Linked DNA regions of Homo sapiens: region 1 is linked to region 2. A link means that fine-mapping ties the variant in region 2 to the plasma level of a protein whose gene starts in the linked region. Region 2 holds a variant in brackets. A gene starts in the other region. All regions are shown on their reverse strands.

Region 1 (5,388 bases), not on the chromosome of region 2:
TAGGGCCTTAGCACCACTCTCAGTTACCATTATTTCGGGTTTCTGGTCTCACCACATCATTCATAGGTTATGGTGTCCTCATGGTCACACATTTCTTTCAGCTCTTGTCATTCTAATTGAAGAGAGACCATTTGACATTCTAGCAATGGCTGCGTGGAAGCACTTAAAACCTTTGAGAGAATACAGTGTACCAGGGAAACTATTATTATGACTATCGGGAGGATAATACCAAGAGTTTGGAGTATGCTCTTTACCCAGGTTACCCATAAACCAAACCACCTAAAATTAAATAGATCAAAAAATGAGCTAAAGAGTCTACTTACTTAACTAAGCAATCTCTTCATTTATCCTCTACAGCTAAATCTCTATAGTCTTCATCTGATGTATTTCTCCATAGGCCACAAGTGCCAGCAGCTGCACAGATACTTCTCTATTCAGCCAATTCTATCATAATTTTCACAAGAGAATTTAAAGTCTGGTATTTAACTATATCCTATACAGTAGAATCTGCTATAGAGCCTACTATGAGGAATGCATTTCTAATCATTGCTTCTTTTACTCCAAACCATAGAAAAAGGAACTAACAAATGATGCCCTTCTAGAAAAGCAAAGGACTCCTGGCAATGTTCTTAGAAGTACCTGTACTATTCCTCTCAGTAATGGAGATCTACTTTCCATGTGCTCTCCAACACATTCAGGCACCAAACTTACAAGTCTTCTATTCTGGATTTGCCCTTCATACAAAATCTATCAACACTTTTTAAAAATCTCTTCATATTCCACCCTTTTGTCCTATTTCTACTACTACAAAATTAATCTGGGGAATTGTTACCACACTTATTTTTGCTGCCATCAATTTCTCAGCTCTGTAAATCACCCCATGCAGTGAGATCAGGTGGCTTTTATGAAACATTCTTTTGATCAAAGAATTTCCCAACCCTCCAAAATGTCAATGAAATTACTTTCCCATGTTATACAGAGAAGCAAATCTCCTTAGACTTCTATACAAAGTTTCCCCAACCTTTTCAACAGTCTTTCTGTCTTGAATATGCCTTGTGATATAATGATTTATCTGCTTTTGTTCTTCAACTCTTTCTCCCTTCAAATCAAGCCATACGCATTATTCAATAACAGTTCAAATGTCAAAACTTTCCTAGGTTTTACCCAGATCATATCAACTCACAGAACTCTCAATTACTGTATATATTTTTGGTCGCCCTACTTAGCATTAAACTACACTACCTAATAGTATTCTTTACTTATTCATATACATACTCCTTTCTCTCATAGTACTATGAGTCTTAGAAGAAAGAGATTTTATGTCCTTTTTTCTGTATTTTCTAAGAATCTATGTCGGGTCAATATTTACTCACTTAACAAATATTTACAAACTACCACCTATATTTGGTATTGTGTTAGTTTTGGAGATACAGCAATAATCAAGACAGACATAGCCAATTTCTGAAATTCAGGTTCACCAACAATATCTGGCACCACAGCGCTCAAGTTGCTCTCATTCTGATATCATCAATGTGAATATGGGAACAAGTAATAATTACAGGAATGACTCTTCTCCAAAAATGAAAAATAAGATATTCACAGTAAATGATAGACTATTATAGTGCTGAGAATGAATTGTTCGGCACTAGAAAGAAAGAACAAATAGGTAGGCAGAGATTTTGTGCATATAGGTATTTGAAATGTCCAATTAATAACTTAAGCAAGATATGGTGAAAACATGAATATAGAAGTGAGGGACAGATTGAGGACTAGATTTCATAAATATTTAGAAAGGCAAACTGTCAGTAATGAATTTTGATATTGGATGTAGATATAAGCGTTAAGCAGTCTAAATTCCAAAATTTTTAGTCAGTGCTGCATGAACTGAAATAAGCAGCAAAAGAAAACTAAAACAATGTCTGTGTGCTGATCCCTTGAAATTACCTTGTAACACTGCCAAAGGAAAATGGCACTGAGCACCAAGTTTGTTATAGTTTCAGTTGTGCCCAAGTGAGTCTCCAGAGTTGGTGAAATCTCAAGCCTCTTATTGCATGGCTTACAGAGAACCAAGGTATGACGGATATTAATCCTTGGCTTGACATCTTTTGACCCATCTCTCTTCCTCTAGGTCATAAGCGAATTCACTCCTTTTCGCTTTGAAAACAACTGTGAATAGAAGAAAATGCACCTATTACTCATCCGCCTTCTGAGAGAGAAAACATGTCTTTAACCCATGCTTGATACGTATGCTAAACTTGCAGCCAGTAGCCTTGGGTCAGGAGTTCTGCGTATTTTCATAAGAGTTGTTCCTGTTACTCTTCGTGAATTTTCTCACCATAAAACTGTTGCCAACGGGGAAGAGGGACAAGAACATGAAGTGTTTATGAGGGAGCCTGAAACTGACAACCTGTGTAACTGGAGTGCGTCGTTGGCATGACACTGGCAGCGCACTGCAAACTTAAGCACCTGTGGACTCCTAATTAGCTCTTTAAATTGAACTACATTAATTCAGGCATTCTTGTTTGAATGCGAACGCCTCCTTTTTCAAGCCACCCCCTGGGCAACCCGAATCCTTATATGACCTCCCTCCTCCTCCTAGTACGGCGCAGGTATGCGAACAGACATTTTCTTTCCTCATCAACTGGTGGTAATGAGAAAAAGAGAACTCTGCTTTTCACAAGGGAAAACGTGCAAGATTTTCTCCGTAGTAGGGGAGGCGGGGGCGATGGGAGGAGAGCAGCTCACGTAGGCAGATAGCGGCGATGAAAGCATAAAGCCCAGTGACGTCGCCCACACGTGGCGCCTGGCAAGTGAACAATCGCGGTGAGAGGGGCGCGCCGCAGCTCCTCAACGCCGCAACGCGCCGGCCCAACTGCAGGAAGGTCTGTGCTCTGGAGCCAGGGTAAATGTAAGACCCGGATTGGAGACTAGAAATGGCTAGGGACGGGGAGGTGGGGTGAAGCACAGGGGAGAGAACCATCGTTGAGGTGAGGGGGTTTCTGATCCTCCTTCGCTCCTCTTCCGGCATCTGGAGGGCACATAGCTAATGCCGGGCAGACTGAGAGTTCAATTTTGTTGCTTAGCGCCGACCTACCATAACTTTCAACATGCTTCTCTATGTTTAGTCTATTGAAACTCTTTACCTACCTTAAAAGAGAAATCATTCTAAGTACATAAGACCCATTGAATCATAGTAGAAGCCTGAAGTCATTTCTCAATCTGCTTTTTACGAAGTCAAATTAAGACTCTTAGTTTCTAATTGATGTTTTGAATGTACAGTTATTAGAAACTGTAATAACAATTAGAGTTGGGGTCATTGACTCTGCTGGACTTTATATCATCTATTGGCTTCCAGAATTTAAAAAAAAAATGAAGAGACAAAGCTGTTACCCCCAAATCCACGTAGTTAATACTTACCATGTGGGACACTGCTTATGGAAATGATCTTTTAAAGAATGGGTTGAAGTCCTAGATAAGGGGTTGGGAGTCTTGAAAAAAGGTTGCAATTTTCCAAGCAAGTTAGCCAACTAGTAGTTACTGAACTTCAAGAAGTCCACTTTTTTGTTAGTGTTTGAAGGAAATATCAGGGCGTTGAAATACAATCTGACCTCAGAAGGACAATATGGTCTTAACGCTGAAATCAAATAAATACAGTAAATTATTAGAAACAATACTAAACAATTGAGTCAAAATTTAAGTTTGTGACAAAGATTATAGATACCATCTATAAGGGTATTCTTCACATCTTTATTTTAAATATTTTGTTTCCTTGTTCTAGGGTTATAAAATTATACACCATGGCCCTCCTAAAGACACTCTAGGAAAACCATGTCATCCTGATCTTAAAACACCTGCAAGAAAGAGCACAGTACTTCACCATTAGTAAGTAGCAAAGAAAAAAAATGGTAGCCAACTTTTCAACTATATATCAATATGGGTTTAAAGGAATAAAATGTAATTATATGGAATAGAAAAAAATATTTTTCCTTGAATATACTCTCACCAACAGTGACATTGCTTTCATTGACTCAATGAAGATGAGTATAGGTTAGATGGTTGAGGTTATGAGAGAGAAGAGCAGCAAAGAGGAGAGTATGGCATCATGGCCTATTATAGAATTCTGGCTCATCAGATGCATACACTGGGTGATTGAGCTATACAAAACTCTTCAGGCTCCTGTGTATGGCTTTCAATGAGCTGATGAGGATACAACAGCCCAGATGTTAGAGCATTTTCCTAAAGTCAGCCAGAAGGTGTCTAATAGAACCAGGCCTTGAACATGTGAATCTCGAATTAGATTATACTGATTGTATTTTCCTATAACACCTGGAAGGAAACACATGTCTCTTAAACACTTAGTAATTAGCAATTCAATCAAACAGCATATGTTTATAGAAAGCTCTTATGAGCTCAACAAACTAGCAGACATTGCAAAAGATAATAAAAACATGAATAATTTCCGTTTATTTGTATTATGTGCATAATGTGTTTATTGTATTAGAGGTGTTACATACATTGTCCCTTCCAGTCTTCAAAGCAAAAACCTGTGATATAAAAATCTACATTTTACATAAGAAAAACACTGAAGCTTGGCATAGATTTCCCAGACCTGATGGTTTCCAAAGAATGCACCCGTAACCAATAAGCTACAGGTAGTTGATAATTAGAAAGTAAAAATCATAGACAGCTGAACTATGAGAGTTCAGCTATAAGGCAGAATCCTGGTAACCTTCACAGTAGTTAACCTGTCTTGGGTTGTCAATATAGAAATACTAGTCCAAAAAGGCCACATGCAGATTATCGTGTGCCTAAGGAGAAGGGAGAACTGATTAGAAAGGGAGGGCATGATTTACTTACTCATGTTAAAAACTATGTGGGAAGCAAATAATGTCAAAAGCATTATCAGACAACTGACAATGAAGTTTAAGGTTACTGGTATGAAAAATACTACTTCAGAACTTTGTTGACTTAGATTTATTTAACAAAACCAGAGTTTGACAAAACAGGAATATGTGTAATATATATGCTGCTCTAAACCTTCCACCTTCTTTCTTTCTAAAGATAAAGTAGATATTTCATCCTGCTCAGAAAACCAACAGTAAGTGTTAAATCATTGATTTTAATGTGAATATTTTATCATGCCAATCATTTTTATGTTGTCAAGGGTAAAATGATTAATGAGTTTGCCCATGATTTTATTTTTTTGTTTTTTGTTTGTCTGTTTGTTTGTTTGTTTTAGAGACAGGGTCTCTTTCTGTCACCCAGGCTGGAATGCAGTGCTGTGATCATAGTTCACTGCTGCCTCAAACTCCTAGGCTCAAATGATCATCCCACCTCAGCCTCCTGAGTAGCTGGGACTACAGGCACTTGCCACCATGCCCAGCTAAT
Region 2 (5,388 bases):
TTAGTGCCACTCACCCAGACCTCCCAAAACACCCTGTTTCTTTCCCACCAAAGCTGAGCCTGCCTGAGGACCTAAACAAGCATGGAGAACGAAGATGGGACCCTAGTCAGGGATAGTGCTGGGCTGTGGGGTAAAGTCAGCTGGGTCAGTGCCTCCAGGTGTGGGAAGGAGCCGGCCTCTTCTCTAGGGCCCTGGGCAAGTCACTGCCCTCTTTGGGCCTCTGTTTTCTTATCCAAAAAATGTAGGGATGATGAGACTGAGAGGGGCTAATGATGAGCTTCAAAGGAGAAAAGAACTTTGAGAGTGCTTGTGCCTGGCTCTTCCTGAGATGATGAGAACAATGGTGACAGCTACATATAACTGAGTCCTCACAAGGCCCAGTGAGGTAGGTGGTTCCCATCACACTTTCAAGTTGAGAAAACAGTCTCAGGGAGGCCTGGCTGCATGCCCAAGGTTCCACATACAGGGAGTGTTGGAGCAGGGAGTCAATCTAGAATCAGAACTTACTGGAGATGACAGGAGCATTGGACCAGCTTACTCACACCAGTTATCCAGGATACCAGGTCAGTGTAACTGGGCATAACTGGGTGAAGGGAGCATAGTATCACTGACCTTTTCTTTGACTCTGGCAGATGAAGACATCCACGTTGGCCACCCTGGAGACGAAACCACAGAGAGGCCAGATGAGGCTAAAGCAGCAAAAAGGCAGTGTCCCTGTGATGGGGAGGAGCTCCAGGGAGTCAGAGGGAAGAGCTCCTCCCTCACAGCCGGAGGCCTCCACATCAAAAGAGCAAGGGGCCTTTCTCCCGTAGCCCTTCCCTCCTGTGGCAACAGTCCCTGAAATGCCTCTATAAGACAAATCTGAGTAAAAGCCTGGAAGAGCTGGATTTGGGAAATAGTGGGGGCAGGGACCACATAACATTGTGACTTGTAAAAATCTCACCACAGAGTTAACATGGGAACATGGGGGTTCATGTTTTTGGAGGCCAGCTAGGAGGAGGGGAGAGAGTTGGGGAGAGGCAGCTGAGTGTCTTTGGCTTTTTCAAGTGGAAGATGTAGATAGGAGGGTCCAGGAGACAGGGGATTATGAGACTTCAGGGGACAGGCCTTGAATGGACACCCAAAATTGGATACTCATCCCCATCACCACCCGATGGCACAGGGTGTTGCCTCCATCCTGGGCACATTTTCCAGTTATCTGGTGATGGGAGACCCTGCCAGAAAGGATTATATGGATGGGAGTGAGCCTGGGATGGGCAGGGCTGGAACCAGGATCCTGAGGCTTGGGAAAAGAGAATCCAGGACTACACCCTTAGATCTCAGCACTTGGCAAACCTCCTCTCATGAGAGCCTCACGGCTGCCTCTGTGAGCTGAGGCATCAGGCCCCTCTTCCCTATGAATGTTGAAGATTCCACATCAGCCGTCAGTCCCTGTTCCCAGAGTGGTGAAGCTGCAGAGCTGCCTGCTTGCAAAGCTCAGTGAGGTTTGGCCTGAGCTGGACTCAGACTCTCCCTCAGGTGGTTCCAATGGAAGGAGAGTAAACTTAGACCTCTCTAAGGGCAGGCAGCTCATATAAGCCTGAGCACTTTTTTAATGGGAGCCTCCAGTTTTTCTGTCATCAGAGAGAGTTGGGGCGGGAGGTCCCTGAGCCTCAGCTCCCATTGTTCTGTTCTTTGAACCCCAGAACCTGCTGCAGACCCAACTCCTGCTTTGTGCACATGCCCTGACCCTGGTGGCCCTGGCAGTAATGCAGTATGAAGGGAGTGGGGAGGGGACCTAGTCTAAGGGTCTAAGGGGCCTTTCTAATGAACACTGGCTGTCTGACTTCCAGGGAAATGTGAATAACACCAAAAAAAAAAAAAAAAAAAAAGGAAGGTGAGTAGCTGGGGCAACACTGGGGGAGAGTGGAGAGGTAAAACTCACAGATGCCCCTGGGGAGAATACTCTGTGTATCTAACTTATTTATCTATTTATTTTGATATAGAGTCTTGCTCTGTTGCCCAGACTGGAGTACAGTGGCATGATCTCTGCTCACTGCAACCTTCACCTCACGGGTTCAAGCGATTCTCCTGCCTCAGCCTCATGAGTAGCTGGGATTACAGGTGCATACCACCACATCTGGCTAATTTTTTATATTTTTGGTAGAGATGGGTTTTCACCATGTTAGCCAGGCTGGTCTTGAACTCCTGACCTCAAGTGATCCACCTGCCTTGGCCTCCCAAAGCGCTGGGATTACAGGCATGAGCCACTGCACCCAGCTTAACCTTTTCAGTAAATCTAAGATGCAGAGGATGGAGCCTCTGCAATCTCAGATTTAGATTCCATCCTCTGCATCTTAGATTTATTGAAAAGGTTTGATACACAGATAAAGAGACCCATCACAATGGAGGGTGTGAGTAGGGGACTGAAATCAAAAACCAGTTCCTGGAGGAGGGGCTGTCTGTATCCAACTCTGAAAATAGGTTGGGGCTGCCTGGCATTAGAGAACAGGAAGAGGCCCTTAAGAGAAAAGCCCCAGAAAACAGCCCGTTACCTCTCTTCCCCACAAGTTCCCTTCAACATTTTTCACCCAGGTCCGGTTAGTAGGAAGTTTACTCTCCTTCCATTGGCACCACCTGAGGGAGAG[T/G]CTGAGTCCAGCTCAGGCCAAACCTCACTGGGCTTTGCAAGCAGGCAGCTCTGCAGCTTCACCACTTAGAGAACAGGGACTGGCGGCTGATGTGGAGTCTTCAACATTCATAGGGAAGATTCATAGATTCATAGGCCTGAAGCCTCAGTTCACAGAGGCAGCCGTGAGGCTCTCATGAGAGGAGGTTTGCCAAGTGCTGAGATCTAAGGATGTAATCCTGGATTCTCTTCTCCCAAGCCTCAGGATCCTGGTTCCAGCCCTGCCCATCCCAGGCTCACTCCCATCCACAAAATCCTTTCTGGCAGGGTCTCCCATCACCAGATAACTGGAAAATGTGCCCAGGATGGAGGCAACACCCTGTGCCATCGGGTGGTAATGGGGATAAGTACTCACTTTTGGGTGTCCATTCAAGGCCTGTCCCCTGAAATCTCATAATCCCTGTCTCCTGGAACCTCCTGTCCACATCTTCCACTTGTCCTTCCCTTTAGCTGCAGGAGATCAAAGTCTTCCAGGAGATGCAGCTGCTTCAGCTGTCTGCAGACAATTATCACCTTCAGCCTGTGGGGCAATTTTGGGTCTGCCTCCAGTTAATGGAGTGGCTCAGTAAGACTGAGAGGTGAGGGTCTAGCAGATTGTCAGAGGGCATGGAGAATATTTGTTTTGGGCCAGCTGCCAAGAGCCTGTGGCCATGGCTCCCTGGTCAGTGTCAGGCCCTGCTGCATGATGACCCCTGGGACCCAGCACTCCAGCTGGGCAGGCACTGGGAAGGAGGCCAGGGATATGGATTCTACTAGCCTCACATCTGCCTCTGTACTGTAGCTACAACCTGCCTGCCAGCTGGATCTCTTATCCCAGTAGTCCAGCAACACCACCCTCCTGGCCATGGAGAACATGCCATGATAAATCTTAGGGAACACTGAGTGCCTGGACCAGCAGGAGGAAAGTACCTTAGAGCTCAGTGACATTTGGGCTAGGCATGGGATCCGGGTGTCAGACAGCTACACTGGGCTTCCAGCTCCACCACTGAACAGCCCTGTGACTGGGGCAGAGGACTCACTACTATGGTACTTGAGGCCCCATTGTCATAAATACAATGCACACTGCCAATTCCTTTTTCTCATTTATCTGTTTATTTATAATCACCATGTACTACTGATCTCTGTTGGTGTTTTTATTCAAAATTAATAAGCATGTGATACGTTTTTATCATTCTTCCTCATGATTTCTTTACTATATGATTCCTCTCATGTGTGGTACTTAAGAGTAAATCCATAGAAACACGAAGTAGGAGAGTGTTTCCCAGGGGCTAGAGGGAGAATAACAAGGAGCTGTTGTTTAATGGGTACAGTTTCAGTTTCAAAAAATGGAAAATGCTTTTTATACATGGAAATTATGGTAGCAAATTAATGAGTGTCCTTAATTCATGTCAACTGAAACCTTTAAAATAGTTAAAATAGTTAGTTTTATGTGTAATTTAACATCATGTATAAAATTCTTTTAAATTTTTATATATATATTTTTTAGGAGACAGTCTTGCTCTGTTACCCAGACTGGAGTGCAGGATTGTAATCATCACTTCCTGCAGCCTTGAACTCATGGGCTTAATTGATTTTTCTGCATCAGCCATCTGAGTAGCTGGAATGACAGACACATGCCACCATGCCTGGCTAATTTTTAATTTTTTTGTAGAGAGAGGGTCTCACTATATTGTCCAGACTGGTCTAAAATTCCCAGCCACAAGTGATCCTCCTACCTTAGCCTCCTAAAATATTATAGGCTGAACATGTTGGCTTATGCCTGTAATCTCAGTGTTTAAATATCTGCAGCAACACTGATGAATATTACAAATGTGATGTACAAAAGAAAGTAGATGTAAAAATATACATACTATATAATGCCATTTATGTAAAATCCAAAAAGAATATAAAATTGAAGTTTTGGCTTTCAGTAATGGTGGAGTAGCTTGTTGAACAATACTCTTACAAATAACAATGGTAAAATCTGGATACAATGTCATATATTGTTATATAGAAACACACATCTATATATCATACATAGGATATATGTACAGATAAGAACTGAATGAGAATTTTAGCTGTGCCCACTGAAAGGGAGAAGGGTATCTGAATTTGAATCCAGCCAAATTAACTCCCTCTTCAAAAAATAACAACAATCTTCAAAGGAATACAACAGAATCCAGAGTCTTTGTAAGTATTATTTATAGTTTTCAAAATACAATTTTAAAATTTAAGAGACATGAGAAGAAACACAAAATGTAATTCATGCACAAGACGAAACACAGGCATTAGAAGCTATCCCCAAAACGTCCAAGATGTTGTTATCAGCAGTCAAGTATTTGAGAGCAGCCATTAAAACTATAGTCATGGGGTGAAGAAAAAACGTTCTCATAATGAATGAATACATGTGGAATCTCAGCAAGAAATGCACATTATTAAAAAGAACCAAATAGAAAGATAATGAAATTTTAAAATAGTACTTTTAGGTTGATTCATAGATTAGAAAAAGACAGAACAATAGAAATTACTGAATCTGAAAAAAAAGAGTAAAAAAAGTTTGAAGAAAATGGACAGTCTTACCAATAAATGCGGTACAAAAGTAACAACTAATAGCTGAAAACTATTGGTCAAAACCCCCAAGTTTTGTTTTTTTTGTTGTTTTTTTTTTTTGTTTTTTTTTGAGATGGAGTCTCACTCTGTTGCCCAGGCTGAAGTGCAGTGGTGCGATCTCAGCTCACTGCAAG

Direction of the effects. Alleles are on the strand shown, and positions count from the first base shown. The strength of an association depends on the size of the effect and on how common the allele is.
In carriers of allele T in region 2, the plasma level of the protein whose gene starts at base 2,840 in region 1 tends to be higher than with G alone (moderate association).

What was found. PIP is the chance, under the fine-mapping model, that this variant and not a neighbour inherited with it causes the effect. Protein levels are from antibody-based Olink assays in UK Biobank. Linkage for the fine-mapping came from a reference panel and not from the study's own genotypes, which makes the PIPs less certain.
Region 1: CRISP2 starts here. The variant in region 2 is fine-mapped to the plasma level of the CRISP2 protein (UK Biobank, PIP above 0.99).

Annotation. Positions count from the first base shown.
Region 1 is chr6:49,710,995-49,716,382 of GRCh38, reverse strand. It overlaps CRISP2 (cysteine rich secretory protein 2), which reads left to right and starts at 2,840. Exons shown (of 10, transcript NM_003296.4): 1 at 2,840-2,908; 2 at 3,779-3,882; 3 at 5,062-5,098.
Region 2 is chr7:64,039,554-64,044,941 of GRCh38, reverse strand. It overlaps LOC105375317 (a long non-coding RNA gene), which reads left to right and starts at 5,331. Exons shown (of 3, transcript XR_927572.3): 1 at 5,331-5,388. The variant T/G (reference allele first, on the strand shown) is at 2,628.